Linked DNA regions of Homo sapiens: region 1 is linked to region 2. Evidence: fine-mapped expression QTL. A gene starts in region 2. The other region holds a variant in brackets. All regions are shown on one strand. Distances are between the middles of the regions. Region 1 has its middle 7.2 kb from the start of RFESD. Region 2 holds the start of ARSK (arylsulfatase family member K).

Region 1 (5,386 bases), 85 kb before region 2:
AAGGGACTAACAGCCTCCTGAATTAAACTTATGTATCAAAACTCTCTTAAAACTGTCCTCTCTAGCGGACAGACTAGATTGTACCCTCTCTACAGGTACACAAATCTGTAGAAAGAAGAAAGGAGCTAAGCTGAGCATACCAGGAGAAGTGAGTGAAGGTTGGAGATTTGACTAGCTGAAACACTTCTTGTTCACTGCTGATTTTTATCTTCCTGGTGGGACTCCAAGTCCTGAGCATTAAGCAAATGATACACAGCTGACGTAAGTGGGGGTGTGGAGAAGAGAGTCTGATCAGCAAATACCACCGAACCTACATTGAGCCTGAAGCAAAACACTGGCCATTTGTACCAAGCCAGGCTTAGCAAATACACACAACAGAGCTATGTGGGCCCAGCAAAGGCAAACCCCAGAGAGCTTTAGGTGACGTGGGCCTCGGGTGCAAGCTGCTGCTCCTTGACCTTCAACAACATTCAGAACATATTCATTCTGCTACACTGAGTGTTAGCAGAGATAGGGAGGCCACAAAGACCTAAGAAAGCAGGTATAACTAAGACAAGGTCTAAATTATGTCTTTAAGGACTTTGGCCTTTCAGACAGTAGTGGGTAGAGTCAGGTTTGCTGCAGTTAGAGGTAGTGATATTGATGAAACTGAAGCTTCAGGTTCCCATATTTGCATGGGGCCTTCCAAGATCCTGAGGTCCTGAGGGACACTAGTAATGTGTTCACATGGTCATATGCTCTCGCCCTCTCACCCCTACCCCTCACATATATAATTATATATAATTTGGTAACAAACACAAAAATACAGAAAAATACAGGGAAACTCTATTCCCAAACGCCCATTTGAGAGTATAGTACCAATCTGATGCCCCGTCAGTCCCTAATGCTTTAGTATGTATTTTCTCCAAATCTGGACATTCTTCTACATAACCACAATACAACCATCCAAATCAGGAAGTTAACACTGACACACTACCATCTAATCCTCAAATTCAGTTCAGAATCAAGATTGTATGTTTAGTTTTCATGTCTCTAGCTTTCTTCAGTCTGAGATATCTCCTTAGTCTTTCTTTAACATTTATGATATTTGCATTTTTGAAGATTACAGGCCATTCATTTTGTAGAATATCCCTCAGTTTGAGTTCATCTGATGTTTCCTCCTGATTAGATTCAGGTAATGAAGGCACATCACAGAGACTGGACTTTGAGCCTCTGTAGGCTGCCCCTTGATTCCCTTCCCACTGGGCTTGAGCTGGCCGTGCTATGTCACTACACCATGTTGCCATCTATCCCACTAGGGCTCTGACACTCCTCTGTGAGCCACCTTGGTCACTCCTCCTTCTCATCCCCCTAGCCAGCATGTGTGTCTTCCCCGCTCTGTCCCACCTACTGGCTTTAGGACTGAATTGTTCAGAAAGGAGAAAGAAGACAGGGAGGAATAATGATAATAATGTTTTTGTAAAATGTGTAAAAGCAAAGTAATTTAACTTCTGTGGATCAAGGCCATTGTTTTTCTTCTGTCACTCAGACATTTTGGGGACCTGGCTAAGGGGCGTCTGAGTTGGAAATACATTTAGTTTGGTTTTAGTGGGATATAGTTGTATGGTTTATAGCTTCCAAGAATTCTCCAGTTGCCCACTGTGGTGACTCTCCCTGTATACCCAAATGAGGGTGAGGGCGAGGGTTCTCTCAAAATGTGAAGGTGGGACAGTGCCCGACATGGAAGTATGTGAGTCCTAGAGCAGAAGCCAGATTTGAAATGGATGGAGCCAGAAATTAGGCTGTAGAAAATTCTATCATCAGATGTTCGGTAATGTTGTAAGTATGGGATTCTGTTCTCATTGACAGTACACATGAAATGTGCTTAATAATGACATCATGTAAACTATAAATCCACCACGTCTTTTTTGATGGGAATCACGTGAAATAGAATTTATCAGAACTCCTATGTCTAAAGTACACAAACCTGTACCGAGTCTACAAACTAAGTTTGTTTTATGCTTCCTATCAATTAAAAAAAGATTAATACTGTAGGAAAGATTGAATTATCTATCTGTTCCATTTATATAAAATATTATCATAAAATTATTGTGTGAAGGGATGACTAGAGAGTAAGTAGACAAGATTGTAGACAAAAAGTATTATAGAGGTATGCCTGGCAATTAATGTTTGCTGTTATGGCCATTTTAAAATATTTGTATTTTTTGTGATCATTCTTTCTAATTAAATATTCGCTTTTACATATATTTTTAAATGTATTGTTTTGTATCTTTTTCTTAAAGAGAACCCTTCCCCACTTCGTCACCTAAATCTATACCCAGCTGCATTTAAAATGTAAGGCGGCTGAGCTCC[G/A]CGTGTGCCTAACTGGAAATTGTCTCTGTGGGGTTGGGGAGGCAGCACTGCTTCAGATTTCATTCTGCCTTCTAGGCCAGAGAGGGAACTGTGGAAGGACAAACCTTGGATTCCTGTAGTACGTCCACATGCTCAAAGTCACTCCACATCATCCATGGAGTCAAGAGAGCTCTGGAGAAAGTGTAGCTCAAGGCAGATTGTTTAGCCTGCCACTGAAAACAGCCACTGAGGCACAGGATTGAAAGCATGCTCCCAAGAGAGCTCCATGTCACTAGATAGAGATCTTGCTCAATTAAGTACAAGGGCTCAGAATGGAAACGGCGATGAAGAGAATTTTAATTGGTAAGACGTGAACGACACTTGGAGACTGGGGCCTCCACCTTTGTAAATTTCTAAACTTGTTGGAAGGCAGAATGACTATTGCCCGTGTCTATGAATGGCTCTCCTTCTGCCCACCCGTCCCCCAGATTTGTTCAGCACAATGCCCAAATTAACCTCTTATGAAAAGATTTCTCCCAAATAGTTTACCTGCACAGAATATAGGTTTGGATTGCCTTCACTGACTGACTGACAGCCACCCTGAGGAAGTTGAGACACAGAGTCTCTCCTCTCAGATTCTAAGCCTATGCTAGAGTTTTTGGGTTCTAGAAGTACATCTTTATTTGGCAATTGCTCCAGGGACAGAGAATGGTTTGTTTCCTAACTTTGGTGGGTAGGTGAGAGGCTAGTGCTACAATAATGTTCTGGCTTCTGCTGAGACTTTTAACACTTTAAAAGAGTGAGGCTCCTCAGAAAATGGAAAATGAACAAATACAGCTTCAGAGATAGACTGTAGCTGCAGCTGCTTAAGGCTTTAGGAGCACCCCCAGCTGAGGCTATGCAGAATCAGAAACAGGAAAAGCTCTGATTTTTTTCGTAGAAGTGCAGAAAATTTTGATTTTCGAACTGTGACCCTTCAGATTTTGATAACTTTGGGCTTTACCTTGCAAGAGAATTTAATCTCTGAGCCTCAATTTCCCCCTAGACATTAGTTTAGAGCCCAGATGTGATGGTTTTGGTTTTTGTTTTTTAGTTGTTGTTGTTTCATTTTCAATGGGGCCCCTGTAGCCCCAACAGAGGAGAGCATCCAGGAGTGGGAGTCAAATTGAAGTCCTTTCACATGAAACTCAAGGGGTAAGGCATGCGTATTTCCATCTGATCCTCTGCTAGGGCTGGTGTTTCTGGCATGTGTGTGCTTCATTGAGTGTGGAAGGTTATTGTGAAGATAGCAGAGGCTGCTAGAAGGTGTCCATTTGCAGAGTAGTTTTGCCCATTGAACTTTAAAGGCTCTGAGAGTTTCTGCTGTAAAGAAACCTGGTTGAGAAGGGAAGAATAAATGAGAAGATGTCAAGGGAAGACATTCAGAAAAATCCAGAATGTGGAATATTCTATTAATACAAGACAACTGGCTTGGTCTCATAAAAAACACAGTACTCTTTTTAAAAAGTTCAGGAAGACTGTTTTAAAATAAAAGGCACTAAACAGACATAACAATCAAATGCAATGTGTGAACTCTAATTAGATTTTAGTTCAAAAGAAAAAGTTATCTATACAAGTAGTATTGAGAAAAAAAGGGAAAATTTGAACATGGACTGGGCATTACATGGTATTATCCCCTTATGGAAAATTATTGTTAGTTTTCTTAAGTGTTATAATGCTTCTATGGTTATGTAAGAATGTCTTAGGAGATGCATGCTCAAGTATTTGGAGGCGAAGTGTAATGTTATCATGAGTCTGCAACTGATTTTCAAGTTATTCACCAGCAACAACAACTATATACATATATATAAATGAAGATGGCAAAATGCTGAACTTTAGTGGTTAATGTGTGGGTGTTCTTTTGTGTTACTGTTAGCTTTTCTGTAACTGTATAATAAGAAGTTAAAGAAAAAGAAGCGTATTTAACCTAGTGTTCCAAACACTTGACTATGAAACTCTTTGTTCCCCTTATAATAACATTAATACATTAAGCATCTTCTGCTTCTTAGAGTACACTCTGTGGCTAGGGCAAGTTCTTAGTAGCTATATTTAAAAATATACAATAATGATAAAAGCTAAGTGAAAAATAAAAATCTTCTTGAAAATTCAAAATGCACACTAAAAGCCCATCTCAATAACTTAGAAAGAGCAGGTCTAATGCTCTTGACATAGTGGTGTGACTTCATTGACCAGACAGATGAAGGTCAAAGCTTGCACAATGATTCCTGAATGTCTAGTAGGCATTACCCAAAATGTTTCTCTTAGTATAACCTCAAGGATGACGATCCAGGCTAAAGGTTTGTTTGTTTGTTTGTTTGTTTTTGCTTTTGTTTTTGTTTTTGAGATGGAGTCTCGCTCTGTCACCCAGGCTGGAGTGCAATGGCATGATCTTGGCTCACTGCAAACTCCGCCTCCAGGTTCAAGCAATTCTCCTGCCTCAGCCTTCCAAGTAGCTGGGAGTACAGGTGCACACTACCACACCCGGCTAATTTTTATATTTTTAGTAGAGAATGGGTTTCTCCATGTTGGTCAGGCTGGTCTCAAACTCCTGACCTCAGGTGATCCACCCGCCTCAGCCTCCCAAAGTGCTGGGATTACAGGCGTGAGCCACCACTCCCGGCCCTAAAGTTTTAATCATCTGTATACTTCTGTGCTTAAAGAACTACATGAAATAATAGATCAGTTAGAACACTCTCAGGAAGAGATGTAAAGAAAAATTTGCAGGCATAATTGATGCAAAGTACACAGAATAAGATTAATAAAATTATTATTTATACTTTTAATCTGAATCCATAGCATTTATAAATGTGTATCATTTGATTTCCTTCAGTGGAGATTTGGGGATGTATAGTTGATTTGGATGTCATCTACTTTCTCTTTTTCTGGTAGAAGTTTCTTTTAGGGAATTCCTCTTGGGCAACACTTCTTCTACATGGTCTAGGTGGGCCACATACACACCCCTGCCCCCAACCTTTCATATACAAAGAGTGTACACATAACGCAGATCTGACCATGC
Region 2 (5,386 bases):
AGTTTAAAGACCAACATTTTTACTATATAGTTGAATATACCTAAAACAAAAACTTCAAAGAAACTGTAAGCTGCACTCAGGACTAGCATTATTTCTAGTAATATTACAGTCTTATTTTCAAACACATTGATATATACATATTATATGTTTGGATAAAGCAAATAAGTAATTGCATTAATGCATTTAGACCAAAATATTTGGCATAAAACAAAAAAGATATAAGTATAAAAATCAAAGAATAAACTTGTAATCTTAAATTTGAATGGAAAGTATCAGTATGATCTCACAATTTATTTTTCTCATTCTAAAATATTATATACTTTCTAGATTTGTCCACTGGAAAGGTCTAGATGCAATGAACACCCTAACACTCAGACTGTGGTCTCTAAATACAAGATGGGACAGGAAATATGTATTGTGGACATGGAACTCTGTTAAAGCAAGCTGTCAAATACTAATGGGGATGGGTCAAAAGGACTCAGAACCACCTGAAGGGGCTTCCACTGGCCAAAGATAGGACAGTTTGAATATTAACAAGTATGTGAATGCAAAAATTTTTTTTATTTTTTATTTTTTAAAAATTTTTTTATTTTTATTTTTATTTTTTTTTCGAGACGGACTCTCGCTCCGTCGCCCAGGCTGGAGTGCAGTGGTGCGATATCAGGTCACTGCAAGCTCCGCCTCCCAGGTTCACGCCATTCTCCTGCTTCAGCCTCCCGAGTAGCTGGGACTACAGGCGCCCGAAACCACGCCCGGCTAATTTTTTTGTATTTTTAGTAGAGACGGGGTTTCACTGTGTTAGCCAGGATGGTCTTGATCTCTTGACCTCGTGATCCGCCCACCTCGGCCTCCCAAAGTGCTGGGATTACAGGCGTGAGCCACCGCGCCCGGCCGTGAATGCAAAAAATTTAAGCACAAATATAGAAAAATCTATGCATTCATACTACACTAAAAAAAATAACAAACCTATATATCTCAGTCATCTTTGGAAGTTTCTGGGATGTTGTGATCCACATTCGGATTCCCTTTTAGGAATGAACAATTGCCTCTGCTGAAGACAGCTGCTTTGCCCAACACCATGCCCCATTCTAGGAGCAGCCCACAACCAGTGGCCATCCAACATGCAGGTGGAAAGGTCTGTTCTCCTCACTCCTATTGGAAAGCAGCTCTGAAGCACCATACTAGTTTGAGAACTGTCATTCATAAGATGGCAACAAAATTCAGCTTCTCCTCTGCACAATCCTGCTTCCTTCATTTGCCTTTGATTACAAGAGCACTCTGTAATAAAATGCCATCTAGTCAATTTCCAGTACTGCCCATTCTCTAAGTTTAAATCACAAAGATAACTTTAAGTAATATTTTCAAAAAATCCCATGGGCACATCCAGACTATGTAATTTTAATCATCAGGAATCTACGAGAAAGGAAATACAACATATGATTACAAACACTCTTTAGTGCCAGATATGCTTAACACCAACATCTGTGTGACCACAGTAACACCGAGTGATAATAAACTAATATTACAATTAATAACCAAACAATTGTCTAAGCAGCACTTTTTAAAACATGGATCATCCTAAAAGCATCGCGTAAGGTTGACAGTAGCACCTTTGGCTTGGGAAAGTTTCAAAAACTGTTTAAGTTTGGGATTCAGCCACATTACCAACACACACACATACACACAATTTCTCTGGAATACGGGGGAGTGAATCAAGTTATACCAACGATTCCATTTGAATCAGCACTAACAGGATTATCACAGACCTGGGTAATAAAAATAAACTTTCTTCACTTCTCACCCAAACATGAATTCCTGCAAACTTGAGGTGAACTGGAAAATGACTTTTGGAAAGCTAACACGCTTTTATGGAGATGCAGAATGTTATTTTACCACACAATTAAACCAAACGGGGGTATGGACTGAAAGTTCATTAGTCGTGGTAAAATAATTTAGCGAATCGAGGTCAGTATTAAAAAAAAAAGATCTGCAAAGATGTTTTCAGTGTTTCACTATTGTTTTACATGTTTGCATAGGTATGTGGTGTACGTGTGAGTACACGGGGCCTCACATAAAATGTATTTCTTTCTTTGCATCGGGGTAAAAGGTGTTTGAAAATGTCTCAGGTTCTGCTCCCCAAAGCCTGCAGCACAGGCGGCGGCGGTGAGGTCGCCGATCCCCAGCGGGGCGCCCCTCCCCTGCCTCGCGGTACTTACGAAGGAGTCGCTCACGACCAGCACCACATTGGGCGCTTTGGCTGCTCTCCGCCTCTGCTCCCCTGCTCCGGGGGCCAGTACCGCCAGCGCCAAGGCTGCGACCACCGACACCCACAGCAGTAGCATCGCCGGTAGCGGTTCTGAGAGCCTGCCGCCGGGCCAGCCGCCTCCCTCTGGCGTTCTCTCCCTAGCAGAGCAGGGCAGGGACAGCGAACAACTCCCAAAGCTTGCAGTTTGGTTGCTTGATAGTAACGCCGAGCTTCACCCGCAGAACTACAACTCCTATCAGGCGGAGAGCGCGCACATGCGCAACAGAGAAATTCCCGCTTTTACCCACGTTAAGACCTTTTAATCAAATACCGAGCAAATCAGAACCCAGCCACTTCCAGTCACGTGAATGAGTCCTGGGAAAGGCGCATGCGCTCTCATTGCAGCCTCGGCGTTTGTAGAAGAGGAGCATCTGCTCCAGGTGGGTTTGGATTTCTGTCGGTTTTGCACAAGGGATCCTAAAGGCGATTGAAATGGTACTTAGAGAAAGAAAGGATCGGGGCCGGGGCTGTTCATTTTGGGCCGCGCAAGCGTGGCTGAGTGTTCGGCGAGAGCGTGAACTGGGCGGCGATGAGGTGGCGGCGCGGCTGTCACTTAAGTTGAATAGGGCGGTGCCTTGTGGGGCCTCTGGGTGGACCGCCTCAGGTGCGCCGTGAATGCCTTAGACCCCCCCGAATACCTTCCCAGGGAAATCTCTAGCCTGTCTCATCTTATTGCTTCTCTTACCCCGTGCAGTCAGGATTTACTGTGCTCCCATGGGGCGAGGAGCGGGGCCTAGTAAGAAGTTTCAGGCTGTAGGCAGGGGAAAGCATAGCTGTTCCTTGCCTTCAGAGAGCAAAGGAGATAAGCGAAACTGGAGGGGGAAATGGGCTGTGTGACATGTTCAGTTAGTTGACGTAGGTTCAGAATATCATTGTTTTGCTGCAGAATAAAAACCGGTCTCTTTTGACTGTTGAATTCCTTTGGAGAGTTCTGGAAGAAGCAGATTTCTGTCCCAAAGCCAAATTCCAATTTCTGTATCTAGTTTCGGGTATATAATTTGCACATCACACTAGTAGTTTTAATATTCTGACAGTTAAAAGAGGAGTTATACTACTTACTTAAGTCAACTGAATACTAATATCTGGCAGGTTTTTTTTTGCCTAAGATAATTGTAGTAAGGAACAGATTTGTTTATTTAATACTCACATGGCACTTAGGTGCTGAGCGTTATACTAAGCATTTACTGAGCATCTGCTGCGTGCCACGTACTTTTATATGGAATATTTTCTATAATCCTCACTTTCACCATATTGCAGATAGGAAAACAGGCTTAGAGAGGTTAAATGACTGGCCTGAGTTTACACAGGGAGCCAGTCAGAGCACGACTGAAAATTGAAGAGTCTGTGCCGTAACTCACTAAATGCTCTGTCTGCAGTTAGTTTATCTGTTAGTGTAGCAGAATTGTTACTCAAGCAGCATGATAAAGATCTGCGGGAGCATGCAAAAACGTAAACAGTGTTGGGCGCGGTGGCTCACGCCTGTAATCCCAGCACTTTGGGAAGCCGAGACGGGCGGATCACCGAAGGTTAGGGGTTCGAGACCAGCCTGGCCAGCATGGTGAAACCCCGTCTCTACGAAAAATACGCAAAATACTGGGCGTGGTGGCGGGCGCCTGTAATCCCAGCTACTAGGGAGGCTGAGGCAGGAGAATCACTTGAACCCAGGAGGTGGAGGTTGCAGTGAGCTGAGATCGCACCTTTGCACTCCGCCTGGGCAACAAGAGCAAAACTCCATCTCAAAAAAAAAACAAAAACAAAAAAACCCCTAAACAATAGTCTCAGTTTACATGAGTTTAGATTTCAGGGAAGCAAAACCAAGCATACATGAAATAATAATACAGCACGGAAGGTAATACAAGTGGGCTCTCTCATAAAAACAAATTTGTTTTGAGTTAATTTGGAATGTAGAACGTATTTTCTACCATAGTGACAATATTGACTGACATTTAAATTCATAAAAGTTATATTTAATTTTGTGTCTGATTCCATAAACTGTGCTTACTCTCTACAGCCTTGTTTCCACAGGACATGTACTCTGATGACAGGCTTACAAGAATACATCTTTTTCTTCTTTCTCCCCTTGGCAGTGTCAATAGGAGCAGGTGCTGCAGTGATTTGGAGCAAGACAGATATTTTAGAGCCTTAGAGACGTTGTGCTGGAAGAATCTAAGAGGCTTCTAGTCCTACTTCCCATCTGACATTCAGTTTATCCTAAAACATTCCTGCTGAGTGGATTGTCCAGCCTGTGCTTTTTCATCTCCAGTGATGGGAAACACTTCCATTGAGTACCTCATTCCACATTTATATAGGTCTCATTAAAAGTTCCTATTTTAAGTTGAAGTTAATCTTCCTCTATTTTTAACCATTCATTAGTGCATTTTTCTTCACTTTTACATGGATAATCTCTCCCTTTCAACAGTCCTTCCCCCAACTCCCTCGCCACCATTTATTTATTTTTCCTAGTCCCCAGTTTCTTCAGCTAGTTCTCATAATTTCAGGTTTCCTCATTGTTTTGATTACTCTTTTGTGAACGTACAACATTTTTGCTAATCAGTAATTCTATGCTATCAGAAAAGGTACTCAAGAGAATGTAACCATTTGCCTCACTGCCTACTTCCCTCCCGCCATTTTTCACTCCTGCATGCTCTCCTCTAGAATACTGAGTTCCGAAAGCCCTCTTTGGAAAGTGTGGGTCACAGATGCTTCTGTGGCTTGTTTTTCCCCAGGCGTGTGCTCAAAGTGTGGCTCAATAAACATCTACTGATTGAGACACTTCCCTCAGTCACTCATTTTTTTGTTAACACTGGTAAGCCTTGGAAGCTGGAAGATCATTAGCTATTTATTGAATATGTATTATCCAGTAAGTGTTGGGTATATAAGAAGCTCTGAAAATATAAGACTTACGTCTAAGAATTTATTGAATTGGGAGACATAATTGAATTATGTCTATATAGGATAATAAAAATAATATTTGTTAAGTTGCAGTTGAGTAGCTCAGTTTGGAGGTTTGGAGGAGGGAGTGATCCCTGTTGTAGGCTGTACTCTAGTATTCATGTAGTGTAGTAACTAATATGAAGAGGG

What was found. PIP is the estimated chance that this variant, and not a neighbour inherited with it, causes the effect. A credible set is the group of variants that fine-mapping cannot tell apart.
Region 1: its variant is the best candidate, but not a certain one, in a credible set for the expression of ARSK in lung (GTEx, PIP 0.83).

The regions. Positions count from the first base shown.
Region 1 is chr5:95,636,880-95,642,265 of GRCh38, reverse strand. No RefSeq gene overlaps it. Among named protein-coding and RNA genes, the nearest start is that of RFESD, 7.2 kb to the left of the region's middle. The variant G/A (reference allele first, on the strand shown) is at 2,353.
Region 2 is chr5:95,552,235-95,557,620 of GRCh38, reverse strand. ARSK (arylsulfatase family member K) reads right to left here and starts at 2,520. Exons shown (of 8, transcript NM_198150.3): 1 at 2,217-2,520. The coding sequence starts at 2,342. SKIC3 (SKI3 subunit of superkiller complex) reads left to right here and starts at 2,644. Exons shown (of 43, transcript NM_014639.4): 1 at 2,644-2,685.